2 linked regions of the Homo sapiens genome follow. The protein of the gene in region 2 interacts with the protein of the main gene of each other region in a pairwise test. Each region holds a gene or a part of one and is shown on either strand. Other genes may lie near its edges.

Region 1 (7,295 bases), on a different chromosome or scaffold from region 2:
TTAGTTCAGGCCCACATAAAGAAATATGAGAATAAAAAAGATTTTTACAGATTTTAATAAACTTGTCTGAACTCTGTTACTTTCAAAAAGAGGATTTAATTAGATATTTTAAGATATATGATTCTGAATATCTATAAATAGTCATACCAGAGGAACTTAATTTTTATATTTATCTTCCCTTTTTTCCTTTTAACTTCACCAATAAGAGCCCAACTCTAGAACTCCAGCATGTATAGGTAGAGAAATGGGAATATTTGCTCTCTTACAAATCTAATCCTTCAAATATTTCTCCATTTAGAATAATGCTATCTCTTGATTAAAAAAAACTTTAAAATGTTATATTAAGGGAAATAGACTGCTTTAACACAGTTTATAAAAATAAAGAATTAAATGTTATTTTCTGAAAATATTTTTGCTTCTTTTAAAACTGTTTTCTATTGTGTAAAAATTAGAGTAACCATTTCCCACTGTCCTTTACTGTTCATAGGAATTTCCAGAGAAAGAAATAAAAACATTGTAATTCTTTTCAAAAAAGCTTAATTCTTATTAATAGTTACTACACAAAGGAAGACTCTGAACTCACTCTAGCTATCATTTCCCTTAAGGTTGCTATGAATTGGTCCCTTTCCATTTTGAGAGATTCTTTTATCCTCCTTAGCTCATCTCTTTCTTTAGCTACAATTCTTATTTCTTCAAGGCTTTCATGAAGTTTCTTAGTCAACTGGAAGTTATCCATTCTCACACTTTGCATAGATAAGTTTTGGGCCTCAAATTGCTTCTTCAACTGTTCCATTTCATTAATTTTTTTATGACTCATATTGACATCTTCTTTCACTCTAAGCAGTTGAAGTTCTTTTTTCTGAAGTTCTTGGATCTTGAGATAATTGTAAAACAAGTTAGAATGTAAGCAGTTTCTTCAAGGAAGGCAAATAGTGTCTACTTGTGTTCTATATGCACATATCTATCTACATATCTGTATCTATATCTTTTTAATTCCACAAATAATTTTGGGCACAGTTACTTCCAAAAGAAGAACAAAACAACACATACCTTTTTCTGTAATTCATCTTTTGATTTATCTAAATCCTTTTGAATGTCTGAAATTTGAATTGTCTTTTCTGAAATTTTTTCTCTAAGTTTATCAACAGTTTCTTTGTGTTCTTTTGATAGCATACGAGCAGTTTTTAGTTCCTGTTGTATTTCCAGATCCTTTATGGTTAGAAGAAATCAAGAAATGTAATGATATAAAGGCACGTTACCTTTACTTAATGATTGAGTTTAAACAAAATCTTAAAAATTATACACTCACAGTTAAAAACAACCATTATACAACCTCCTAAATTAGAAGAGTAAAGTAAAATTTTCTGCTGGTAGCCTCACCCATAGCCTTCTCCTTTCATACCACTTGGACATCTTTCTAAATCAATATCACAAAAAGAATACCCCATTCTTATGCTTAGTTTTCCATTATACAGATAGTGCCTTATTATTGGTGGACACTTAGATTATTTCTAGGTTTTAGTCACCAGACACAACGCTGCAGTGAACACTGTATTTTTGCCCAAATATGTGAATATAATGGTAGGGTAAAGAGAGAACACAACTCACTCTAGCTTTGGTTTCTTGCAGGCTTTCCTTGAGTTGGTCTCTCTCCAGTTTGAGTGTCTCCTCTACTCTTCTTAGATTATCTCTTTCTTTCATTACAGATTTCATTTCTTCAAGGTTTTCATGAAGTTTCTGAGCCAAATTTAAATTCTCTATTTCTAATTTACTCAGAGTTAAGCTTTGGTCTTTTATTTGTTTCTTTAGTTGCTCCATTTCAGACACTTTTTTCTGTGTCTCATTGACATCTTTTTTTAACGTAATAAGTTGATGTTCATTTGCCTTAAGTTCTTGAATCTTAAGATAATCATAAAATAATATGTTAGGTGGCTTTTTAGGGACAGATAAATAATAGTTTCTAAATTGATTAAGACAACTGTCTACCCATGTTACTCTCACTGATATCCTGCACAATTCCACACAGAATTTTACTTTCTTTTGAGGTATAATATATATAAAGCATGCTCATCTTCAATGTATAACTTAATTATTCTTGACACAGGTGTAAATCTATGAAACTACAACCCAGATTAAAACAGAGAATATTTCTAGCACTTCATAAAGTTTCTGTGTGCTCCTTCCTAGAGACAGCCACTATTCTGACCTTTATCATCCTGGTTCAGTTTTGCCTGCTTTTGAACCTATATATCACAATGTATGTATCCATTTTCCTGCTGATAGACATTTGAGTTTTCAGTTTTTTGTTATTTTGAATAAGGCTGCTATAAACATTCTTGTGTCTTTTTATAGAAGTATGTACGTACTCTTTTCTCTTATGTACATACCCAAGAAGTGGAAATGTTGGGCCTCAGGCAGGCTACATCCAGCATTAGTAAATACTGCCAAGGTGTTTTCCAGTGTGGTTGAACCATTTTATATCCCCAACAATTTTAGGCACAAACAAATTAGATATCCAATCAAACAATCCCCCCATAAAAATACCTTTTCTTGTAATTTAGCATTTGAATTTTCTAAATCTTTTTGCATATTTGATAGTTTATCTGTCTTCTCAGAAACAATTCCTCTGAGTTTGTCAATAGTTTCCTGCTGCTCTTTCAGATGCATGTGAGCAATTCTTAGTTCCTCTTGTATTTTCAGATCCTTTACCATTAGAGAAATTTTAAAAACAGTGACATATCTTAATATTAGTTTTTAAAAAATAAAGTGATATATTTTCTTAGTAAAAATAATAACACTGTTACTCTATATCTTTGCTGTTGTTTTTAAGGTACAGGCTTTCTCTTCCCTGTCCTCCTCTCTTCACACTCTACTTCTGCTTTCCAGAGGCAAACACATTACACATATATTACTTTTTTTAAGTGTTGCATAGTATTTCGATATATTGTTCATATTTACTGTTTCCTTCTGAGGAACATTTAGATTGTTTCAGATTTTTAATTAAAATCACTACAATAAATAACCTGTGGCATATGTATACGTTGTGTTTGTATATACACACACACTCCTTTAACAGTATATATGTAGGCTAAAGTCCGTAAGGAAAATGATAATTGCAGACTTGAACTTTTCAAGAACAGTACCAAATTATCTGCTTAAAAGGCTGTATCATTTCATTCTTGCCAACAGTAGTACTTGGTTCAAAGAAGGGTTCATTGCTGTAAGAACACAATACATTGAATTGCCAGGGAGAGGAATGAGCTTACTTTAGCTTCTATTTCTCTAAGGCCTTCCCTAAGTTGGTCTTGCTCCATTTTAAAGATTTCCTCTACTCCTCTTAGGCCATCATTTTCCTTAGTAACAAATCTTACATCCTGAAGGTTTTCATGAAGCTTCTGAGTCAATCTTAATTTCTGCGTTTCTACACTTTCCAGAGTTACATTCCAGGCCTCTAACTGCTTCTTTAACTGACCTGTTTGATACATAGTTTCCCTAAGATCATTTTTTACTTTAAGAAGTTGAGGCTGGGCCTGGCGGCTCATGCCTGTAATCCCAGCACTTTGGGAGGCCGAGGCGGGTGGATCATGAGGTCAGGAGATCGAGACCACCCTGGTCAACACGGTGAAACCTCCTCTCTACTAAAAATACAAAAATTAGCTGGGTGTGATGACATGCATCTGTAATCCTAGTTACTTGGGAGACTTGAGGCAGGAGAATCGCTTGAACCCGGGAGGCAGACATTGCAGTGAGCCGAGATCATGCCGTTGCACTCCAGGCGACAGAGCGAGACTCTGTCTCAAAAAAAAAAAAAAAAAAAAAAAAGAAGTTGATGTTCTTTCTCCTGAAGTTCTTGGATCTTGAGATAATCATACAATAAGTTAGGATTATCAGTAGATATAAAAAGATCAATGATAGTTTCTAAATTGAGTAGGCAAGTAAGTCTTCACTTGCCTTCAATTTTAGGGTAATTCATATCTTGTTTCATTACACAAAAAGTTTGATTCAAACTCTCAGTAACTGAGATAACTTAAAAATAAAATACCTGTGCTTTTAAGGCATCATTTGAGTGTTCTAAGTCCTTTTGCATATTTGATATTTCATTTGTTTTCTCTGAAACAATCCCTCTTAGTTTATCAATAGTTTCTTGGTGCTCCTTCAGATGCATGTGAACAATTTTTAGCTCCTCTTGTTTTTCTAGGTCCTTTATCAATAGAAAAATAAAAATAATACATTGAGAGTAGTACCATCCACATGCTATAGAAAGGTATAGGGCAGGAGGTAAAAATCTTCCACCCTCTTCTGAGGCCTCCTAGTTCTCACCCTCTAAGCTACTTTTAGATGTCAATACATTCTAGATACACTATTCCTGAACTTACCCTGTTCCCTAACAGGACACTTCACCCTTCAAATCAGCACTATAGCTCTACCACATTTTTTATTTGTGGCATAGAATTCCATGACGTGAATGTGCTGCACTTATTTAACCAGTCCCTTACCAATGGATGGTTAGAATTTTCCCTGTTTTTGTTTGTGTTATTTCATTATTGCAACTTGTTGCAAAGAATATCCTACAAATATCTTTATACAGTTGTGCAAATGTGTGGAGGATAGTTACAACTGGACTTGTGGATCAACGAATAAACCTTTGGAAAAATTTGGAAGGTATTTCCAAATATACCCTCACCAACTTTCCTCAATATTGGACCAATTTTATCTTATTTTATTATTTTTTATTTTATTTTACTTTTTGAGATGGAGTCTTGCTCTGTCGCCCAGGCTGGAGTGCAGTGGTGCGATCTTGGCTCACTGCAACCTCCGCCTCCTGGGTTCACGCCATTCTCCTGTCTCAGCCTCCCAAGTAGCTGGGACTACAGGCGCCCACCACCACGCCTGCCTAATTTTTTATGTTTTTAGTAGAGATGGCGTTTCACCATGTTAGCCAGGATGGTCTTGATCTCCTGACCTCGTGATCTGCCCGCCCTGGCCTCCCAAAGTGCTGGGATTACCGGCTCGAGCCACCGCGCCCGGCCTGGACCAATTTTATACTCCCACCAACCCTATGGCAGATTTTTCTCTTAGGACTCAATGTCATAGTTACTAGAGGTGTAGAGAGATGGTAACTCACTCTAGTTATAGTTTCTCTAAGGTTTTCCTTGAGCTGGTCTCTCTCTACTTTGAGAGTCTCCTCCACACTCCTAAGGTCATCTCTTTCTTTTGTTACAGATCTCATTTCTTCAAGGTTTTCATGTAGTATCTGAGTCAACCTTATATTCTCCGTTTCTATGTTTTCCAGGTTTAACTTCTGGGTCTCAAATTGCTCCTTCAAGTGTTCTATTTCACACATTTTCTCCTGAGTCTCATTGACAGCTGTCATCTTAAGAAACTGATATTCTTTTTCTTGAGATTCTTTCATCTGAGAAAATTATAAAGTAAGTTACAACATAGGCAGAATTTTTTTAGGAAAAGGAAGAACTGTTCCTAAAATAAGGCAATCATTTTTACATTGTAATCTAATGTATGTAGTACTTTCTTTCATAAGGGATATGAGTAACAATAATTAGATGTCATTTTCCAATTTAACAAGTCCCACTTTTTCCTGTAATTCACCATCAGAATTTCCTAAATCCCAATGAATATTTGCTACTTGAGCTGTCTTCTCTGAAATATTCTGTCTACTAACAGTTTACTGGTACTCAGTTGAATATAAGCAGTTTTTGATTCCTCTTTTATTTCCGGTCCCTTTATGATTAGAGGAAAATTAATAAAACTTAACATGAACACCGTCATTATCACCTTAACACTATTTCTGTATCCAAAAAAAAAAAAAATAAGATGGGAACTTACTTTAGCTACAATTTCTTTAGTGTTTTCTTTCAGTTGGTCTCTCTCTATCTGAAGGGCCTCCTGTACTCTTTTCATTTCCTCTTTTTCCTTAATCATAATTTGTATTTCTTCTTGACTTTCTTGAAGTCTGTTGGTCAACTCGAGCATCTTACTTTCTATACTTTGTAGTGCTGAATCCTTGGCTTTGCGATGCTCCTTGAATTGTTTCAGTTCATTCACTTTTTCCTGAACCTCACTAATTTGTTTTATATTAAATTGTTCCTCTTTCTCATAAATCTCTTGGATCTTAAACATAATTATAAAATAAGTTAATAGTCATAAAAATATGTAAACACACACACACACATACACAACTTAAGAGGAAAAGGTTGCTTCCCAAAACAATTAAGCATGCCAAATAGTAGTCTTCATAATTCAGTTAGCTACTCCAAACCCACCCATTTCCTCCCACTGTTTCTTCATCCCCAATTTACCTTGTTCTGTAATTTATCATTGATTGCTTCTAACTGCTTTTGAATGGTTGATATTTCAGTTTCCTTCTCTGAAAGATTCACTCTTAACTCATTAATAGTTTCCTCTTGTTCTTTCAGGCAACAATGAGCAACTTTAAGTTCCTCTTCAGTTTCCAGGTGCTTTATTATTAGAGGAAATTCCAATAAATTTATAGAAACATTATAACTATTTTGTTGTAATTAACTCCCCTTTCCAAATATTTAGGGTTTATAATAATATTTGGTTACAAAATATTTTTTAAAAACATGGTGAAAGATGAAACCTACTTTAGCTACAATTTCTTTTATGTTTTCTTTGAGCTGGTCACTTTCAGATTGAAGAACTTCTTGCAGCCTCTGTAGGTCATCTTTCTCCTTAGCTACAGATTTCATTTCATCATGACTTTCTTGAAGTCTTTTGGACAATCCGAGCATTTCTATTTCTATCCTTAGTAGTGCTGAATCTTTGGGTTTGAATTGCTCCATCTCACTCACGATTTTGGTAGTTTCATTGTCTTTTTCTTTCATATTTAAGGACTGTTCTTGTTTGCTTTGAGACTCCTGGATCTTAAGAGAATCATAAAACAGTACAGTTGATATCCAGAGATATTGTGTTTTAGGGGAAAATAAATCAGGATGCTTTCTAAAACAATTAAGGCAGGATTCAGTGCCTCATTTACAGAGCAATCTCTCCATTCTCCCACTCTTCCATTATTCAGGCATTTAATGCTTTTTAAAAATTGAGGTCTCACTGTGTTGTCAGCATCTTATTCGAGGCTGGAGACAAAATGATGAGACTTACAGGATCTCTCTCTTTTTGAGACTTATACTTCAAGGACAAAGATAGATATGATGTTGAATCTTACCAAATAGAGATGCTGGCTTCTCCTACGGCCCAAGTGTCAAATATAATCTATTGTGAATGATAGGAAGGGATTCCTAGAGGAGAAAGCTTTAACT
Region 2 (5,849 bases):
GTGCTAACAACTCTGTAGAAGATCATGCTTCAGAAATGTGGCAGTGTAGCAGACCAGGTACTTGCAAGGCGTAATATTTAAGCACAGGCCCTGGTGTAACTAAGACCAGTTCAAACTCTTGTTCTGCCAGTTACCACCTATTGAATAAGCTACTAAACATCTTAAACCCTCAGTTTCCTCATCCTTTTGCAGATGAGGAAACAGGGTTTAAGATGTTTAACTTATTCATTTATTAGATAATGTATTAATAAGTTACCTTAAGAGATAACTTACCCAATTGTTATCATTAAGGATTAAATAACACATGTAACTACTTAGGTTACCATCTGGAACAGGACAGTTATGGGAAGTTTTTATTACAAAAGGGGCAGGTAAAATTCTGGATGAAGTACAAGGGCTTACATTTGCAAGCTTATTATTAGAAAGGACTTCGATTTACTGGTGTGGCAAATTTTCCTTTCAGATCAAGTAGGACACCACAGCAGTCTTCACTAGGACCTTCCTTGGTGATTCAACAATAACTATTAACTATCCACATACTGCCTAGATCGATGGCCTCCAACGTGCAAAGTAATAATTCATTGGAGCTTGGGGAAAGTGTAAACCTTTTATTTCACTCTTTCAAATTTTGTTCCATAATGTTCACATTAGTGTAGCAGTACATTTGTTGACACATATTTTCATTGTTCAATACATATAATTATGGACACATGCTCAACAAATATTTTTGTAAGGAAATAGCATCAGGTTTGGAGACCATGATCTAGATAACTGAGTCAACATTTCGCTCCTCATGCATTCATAGCTATCAAGCCGTCTTTCCTTTTTCCCCCTTACCTACCATATCCTGACTTCTACTCCTAGTTTCTCCAAGAGGACAAAACATATTAAGATGCGGTGGGTCAGAATGTGCAGGTGGTAATGTGACACCCAGCTAATGAGTCTGAGAGGCATGGGTATCTCCTCAGCTTTCAAGATTACAGCCTGAGCTACACAGAAATAAACTGTGCCCACTTAACTTGCTTGTGAACCTGATATGGAAGCAATGATATCCCATTCCACTAGGTGGCAGCAAAACTCTACCCACAAGGTGCCCAAGTGGTTCACTGGTATTATTAGTGCTTACTTGTTCAGCCCCACTTAATTAGCAGAAAGACAGTGGCTAACAGGATACTTAAATTACATAATGCCTCCAACAGTGGAGAACAGACACTGCCATTTTGCTTTCTACAGGCTGGCCTTTCCTTAGGCCTACCTGAATTTTACATGTATTGTGAATGATCTTCTCAGACATCCACAGGCCAAATGGCAAAAAGAACCTTCTGATATACCTAAGCCTGGAGTCAACAATCAAAAGTCCTAGTAAAGTTATATAGATCCTGTATCAGATTCAGGTAAAACCCTGGGCATGCCATGGATAAAGAAAGACTTCTGAAAGTTTTCATTAGGATGGTAGAATAATGAATGTCTTACAAATTTATTATTATAATACATAGAATTTTGAAATAGTATTTCCCAGAAGCAGTAGTACTTAACCAGTTCAGCAGGCAGTCTATATACATTTTTTACCTTTGCATTTTCCAAATTCAGTAGGTTATTGTTAGCCTCCCTAAAACCAAACAATTTTGGCTAGAGGTGTTAACCCAATCTCTCAAAACAAAAACTGAAAAAAATAAACACCCAAACAACAATCTCTCTGCTATTGACTTATAATTATTCCCTCCGCTTAGGTCATTAATTTTAAAAAGTAAATAGGGTAAAACATTTCAAGATAATAAACTAGGCTACATTAATTAATTTCTTACCTAAATTATGCATTACATTAAAATCTATGTCACTTGACCTTAAGAAAAGAAATGACACTACCCTCTTTACAGTTAAAAAAAATTTCAGTTTCCAGGGACTTGAGAGTATACCTAATCTGAATGAGTCAGAAACTGTTCTCAGAGGCCAGGCATGACGGCTCATGCCTGTAATCCCAGAACTTTGGGAGGCTGCAAAAAATACAAAAATTAGCCAGGCGTGGTGGTGCACGCCTGCAATCCCAGATACTCAGGGGGCTGAGGCAGGAGGACTGCTTGAGCCCAGAGGGTTGAGGCTGCAGTCAAGTCGTGTTTGTGCCACCGCACTCCAGCCTGGGCAATGAAGCAAGACCCTGTCTGGGGGAAAAAAAAAATGTTCTCAGAAAAATAAGCATACAAATGAGAGATAGAAATGAATAGAGAGATATGGTATCTCTTAAATTAGAAAATCAGCACATATGCATTCTAAATGAGACAAGCATATAAAAGATGTCATTGTAGAGGAGGCAAACTTAAGCTGAAAAGTTTCTTCCCAAACATACTCTACTCTTGTACATCGACTGTAGGATATTTAAGACCTCACACAATATTACATCACAACATCGTTTATTATGTGAATTTTTTACAATACAAACAAAAAATACAGAAATGCAATATATGAATACAGCTAAATGCAGAATGGTGACTTTTTTCTCTTCAAGAGGCCATGATTCCCATTTCTAGTAAAATAAAGAGACTGCATATAGGTAGAAACAGGTTGGTCATTAGCTTCACAATTTTGCCTAGAAATGATCTATAAATGCATTTCCCCCCCTGCTACTTACCATAAAGTGTAAAAAGGGAGTTAAAGGAAAGTTTCCTTGTTGGTTCCTACCATATGAAAGATGCTATATTCTATTTTAGCAGTGCCAATATATGGAAAATATCTAAATTAAATGTTATTACAAAAATGAAGCAGTAATGAGATTCTGGCTAAAGAGGGCACTAAATGAGAATAATATATATTTAAAGAATCCAAAACAAACAAACAAAAAGACGTTGTTATAAAAAAGCTCTAGGTGCACAGTAAGCATATAGGGTTTTTTTTTTTTCCATGTGTATTTTTAAACAATGGAAGTGTCAAAAAATAGGGTCAACTGTGTTAGACTAAATTACATTATTGTATATGCTGCACTGAATGGAACCTTTGTATTGTAATTATCATAGAGAAGCACAGTTTGCATCATATTATGGCAATTTATCCTCAATGAAAATCTTCCAGAGTCCTTTTATTTTGGAATATCCTGTAAACAATCAAACCACCAGAACATGATTGTACAACAGTAAAATGTTCTCTTGCATTAAACTGAAGATATCTGTTTAATAAAAAAAGAAAATGTAGGAAAGGTACTTAGAGCTCTTACTTTCTAAGTACAGAACACCCTAGACAATTCAAGGCATCTTAATCTCCATCAAGAACAAAAAAAAAAATAATTTTTGTCATGCTGTTAAATCCATCATTATGGATAAAACTGGTGCAAATTGGTCAAACGGATCCAACAAACACTGATGTCCAAGCTGGCATATTGGCAACTAATACGTTAACTGGTGGTCAATAGAGAGTTTAAAAGATCTTCCCTTTCTTCTTGTTCTTTTCCAAGGTTCTAAAGGATAAAAGGAAAATAAGCAAGATGAGTAACCATTTTATAAACATGATAGACAACATGATAACAACAGCTAACCCAATTACAACAATGTTGGGATTTTCAGATACTACTTTTTCACTGAAAAAAATTAAAAGATTTAGAAGTAAACAGCTAAGACAATGTTAATCTATAATAGCATTTTCTTAGACAATCAAATATTTGACAAAACTCCAGGATAAGCAGTAAAAAAATAAGGCAAAACTCCATTTTAATATACAAGAACAATTCTTCCCAAATGAAACAGCACAAACTAAAAAGTATCAACTGGCAGCAAACAGGGTATTCTTTTTCCCCCACTGTCATTTGCATTTTGAAGTGCAATTGCTTTCACAAATCTATTTTCCTCTTCTTTGGGGAAAATGTTAACAGTAGGGTAGTGTAGTAGAACAAATGTCAAATCTGAAAATGTTTAGTAATGAGGATAAACTATATAATCCTTATAGGAATGCCACTTTTCAGTTTTAAGTGAAACTATTAAGGAAAAGAAAACCAAGGTACAAATATTATTGAATTTTGTATAAATTAAGAGAAAGTAATTGATTAGTTGTATTGGAAATCAAATATCTAACATTTTGTCTTAAGAATTTTATCGTAAAAACATAATTCAACAGTTAAAACATACCCCTAAATATGTAATAGATTTTGAAGAATGTTCCCTTTGTGTGCCAAAAATTGAAAACAACCCTTATGTCCAACAACTGGGGGGAGGAGGTAAGAAATCCAATGAAGGTAAGTTAACTGGGGAGAATGTTATGAAGTTGCTAAATCATAATTATGAATATTAAGTCATGAAAGATGTACTGAAAAAATACTGCTAATGGACACAGACTGTATCCATCCATATAAAAATATTTATCTATGAAAACCATTGTGTTTGGAATGCATGATAATGGGTGATGACTTTTTAAGTGTTATTCTAATGTTTTTTAAATAAGTAGGAAAACAATTCTTTAAAACATTAATACACACATTTCTTAGTAATCTGCTATTAGTTACCTTGAAGAGTTCTGTTGTTCTAAAATACGTTGTTGAGCTTCCCAGTTTGCTTTCTCATCCTCGAACTGACGACGTTTTTCCTCCAATTCTTTGTGCTGTGCTTCCAAATTCTTTTTCATTTGCTCATGGCGCCGCTGGAGCTAAATCATAGCACAATATATAAAACAAAACTATTTAAGAAATCAGAAGCAGAGGTATGTTTCATCCAGACACCCTAATGATAAGGAGTATGAGCACTATTTGAATAGCCCTGTTGTAAATTCAGAGTACTACCTGGAAGTACTCTGGTCAAGGACTCCTCCTCCTTTAGGACCTGCCACCCAAAAGGCCAGTGACCCAAGACAATAATCTTGGGAAACAGGAAAAAAAAAAAAAGCAACAAACTTAACAGTGTGGAGTACTTTATAATGGAAAATTACTATCTTATCTCGTTTTTCTTTAATCACAAATATGTTGGAGGCTGGGCAGTGAACACATCACTGTTCTCATTGTACAGATGAGGAAACAGTTGCAGAATTTAAGTGACTTGCCCAAGATTGCTAGCCAGAAAGTGGAAGAACCAGGACTTGAATAAGCCTCCTAATTCCAAGTTTAGAAAGCTAAGACAAGTGAAAAGAAAGCAGGTAGTTTAGGACCCTAAGAGCTCAAAGATGCCAGCAAAGTACTCTGATTCCTGTAAGCAGTGGTTCTCAGACATTGGTCTTCATGCAAATCACCTGGGATGTTTGTTAAAAATATAGAATCCTGGACCTCACTCAGACGTACTGAATTAGAATATCTGGGTGTTAAGTCTGGAAATGTGGATTTTCAACAAGTTACAGTGATTCTAATGCAGCTGGTCCTTCCTTCTCTGTGTATTAATACTGTAAAGAATGCTGACTGAGAGGCAGTAAACACTCATGCGAAGTAACTGCAGAAACAAAGTGCTTTAAGTCCAAGAGATCATTAGATAAGTAATTTCATTTAGGTGCAAGTCAATCCATTTCTGAAAAAAAAAAAAGTCAACAAATTTTAAAAATCAGATTAAATCCTTCTATGCCAAATACCCAAGGACTATTCAAAACCTTCAGTTATCCAGGAATTATGTTCTGTTACAGATTTTACTACACTGGTGAGTTAACATTAACATAATGTTAATATATAACTATTATATGTATTATATATTATATACATATTATATATGTTACTATAATTTTGCATACAATTTTTTTTTGCAAGCCCGAAGTGACTTCAGATTTATTCCTATTTCAATTATTTCATGCAATTCCTACAAAACAAAATCACCTAAGACACACTTAAGCAAACATGAATCAAATCTGAGGTGATATCTTCCTGATGACAGCAAACAAGTTACTAAGAAATGTCA

What was found.
Region 1: the proteins of SEPTIN7 (region 2) and CENPE interact in a two-hybrid assay, tested with the Homo sapiens proteins (one study listed by BioGRID).

The regions. Positions count from the first base shown.
Region 1 is NC_000004.12:103,139,206-103,146,500, forward strand, and holds part of CENPE (centromere-associated protein E isoform 1 precursor), read right to left. Parts: intron 6,903-7,295; coding exon 6,624-6,902; intron 6,477-6,623; coding exon 6,318-6,476; intron 6,130-6,317; coding exon 5,845-6,129; intron 5,414-5,844; coding exon 5,126-5,413; intron 4,202-5,125; coding exon 4,043-4,201; intron 2,704-4,042; coding exon 2,545-2,703; intron 1,900-2,544; coding exon 1,609-1,899; intron 1,210-1,608; coding exon 1,051-1,209; intron 875-1,050; coding exon 584-874; intron 1-583. UniProt on the Homo sapiens protein: Microtubule plus-end-directed kinetochore motor which plays an important role in chromosome congression, microtubule-kinetochore conjugation and spindle assembly checkpoint activation.
Region 2 is NC_000007.14:35,901,850-35,907,698, reverse strand, and holds the end of SEPTIN7 (septin-7), read right to left. Parts: intron 4,624-5,849; coding exon 4,484-4,623; intron 3,446-4,483; coding exon 3,406-3,445; 3' UTR 589-3,405; downstream 1-588.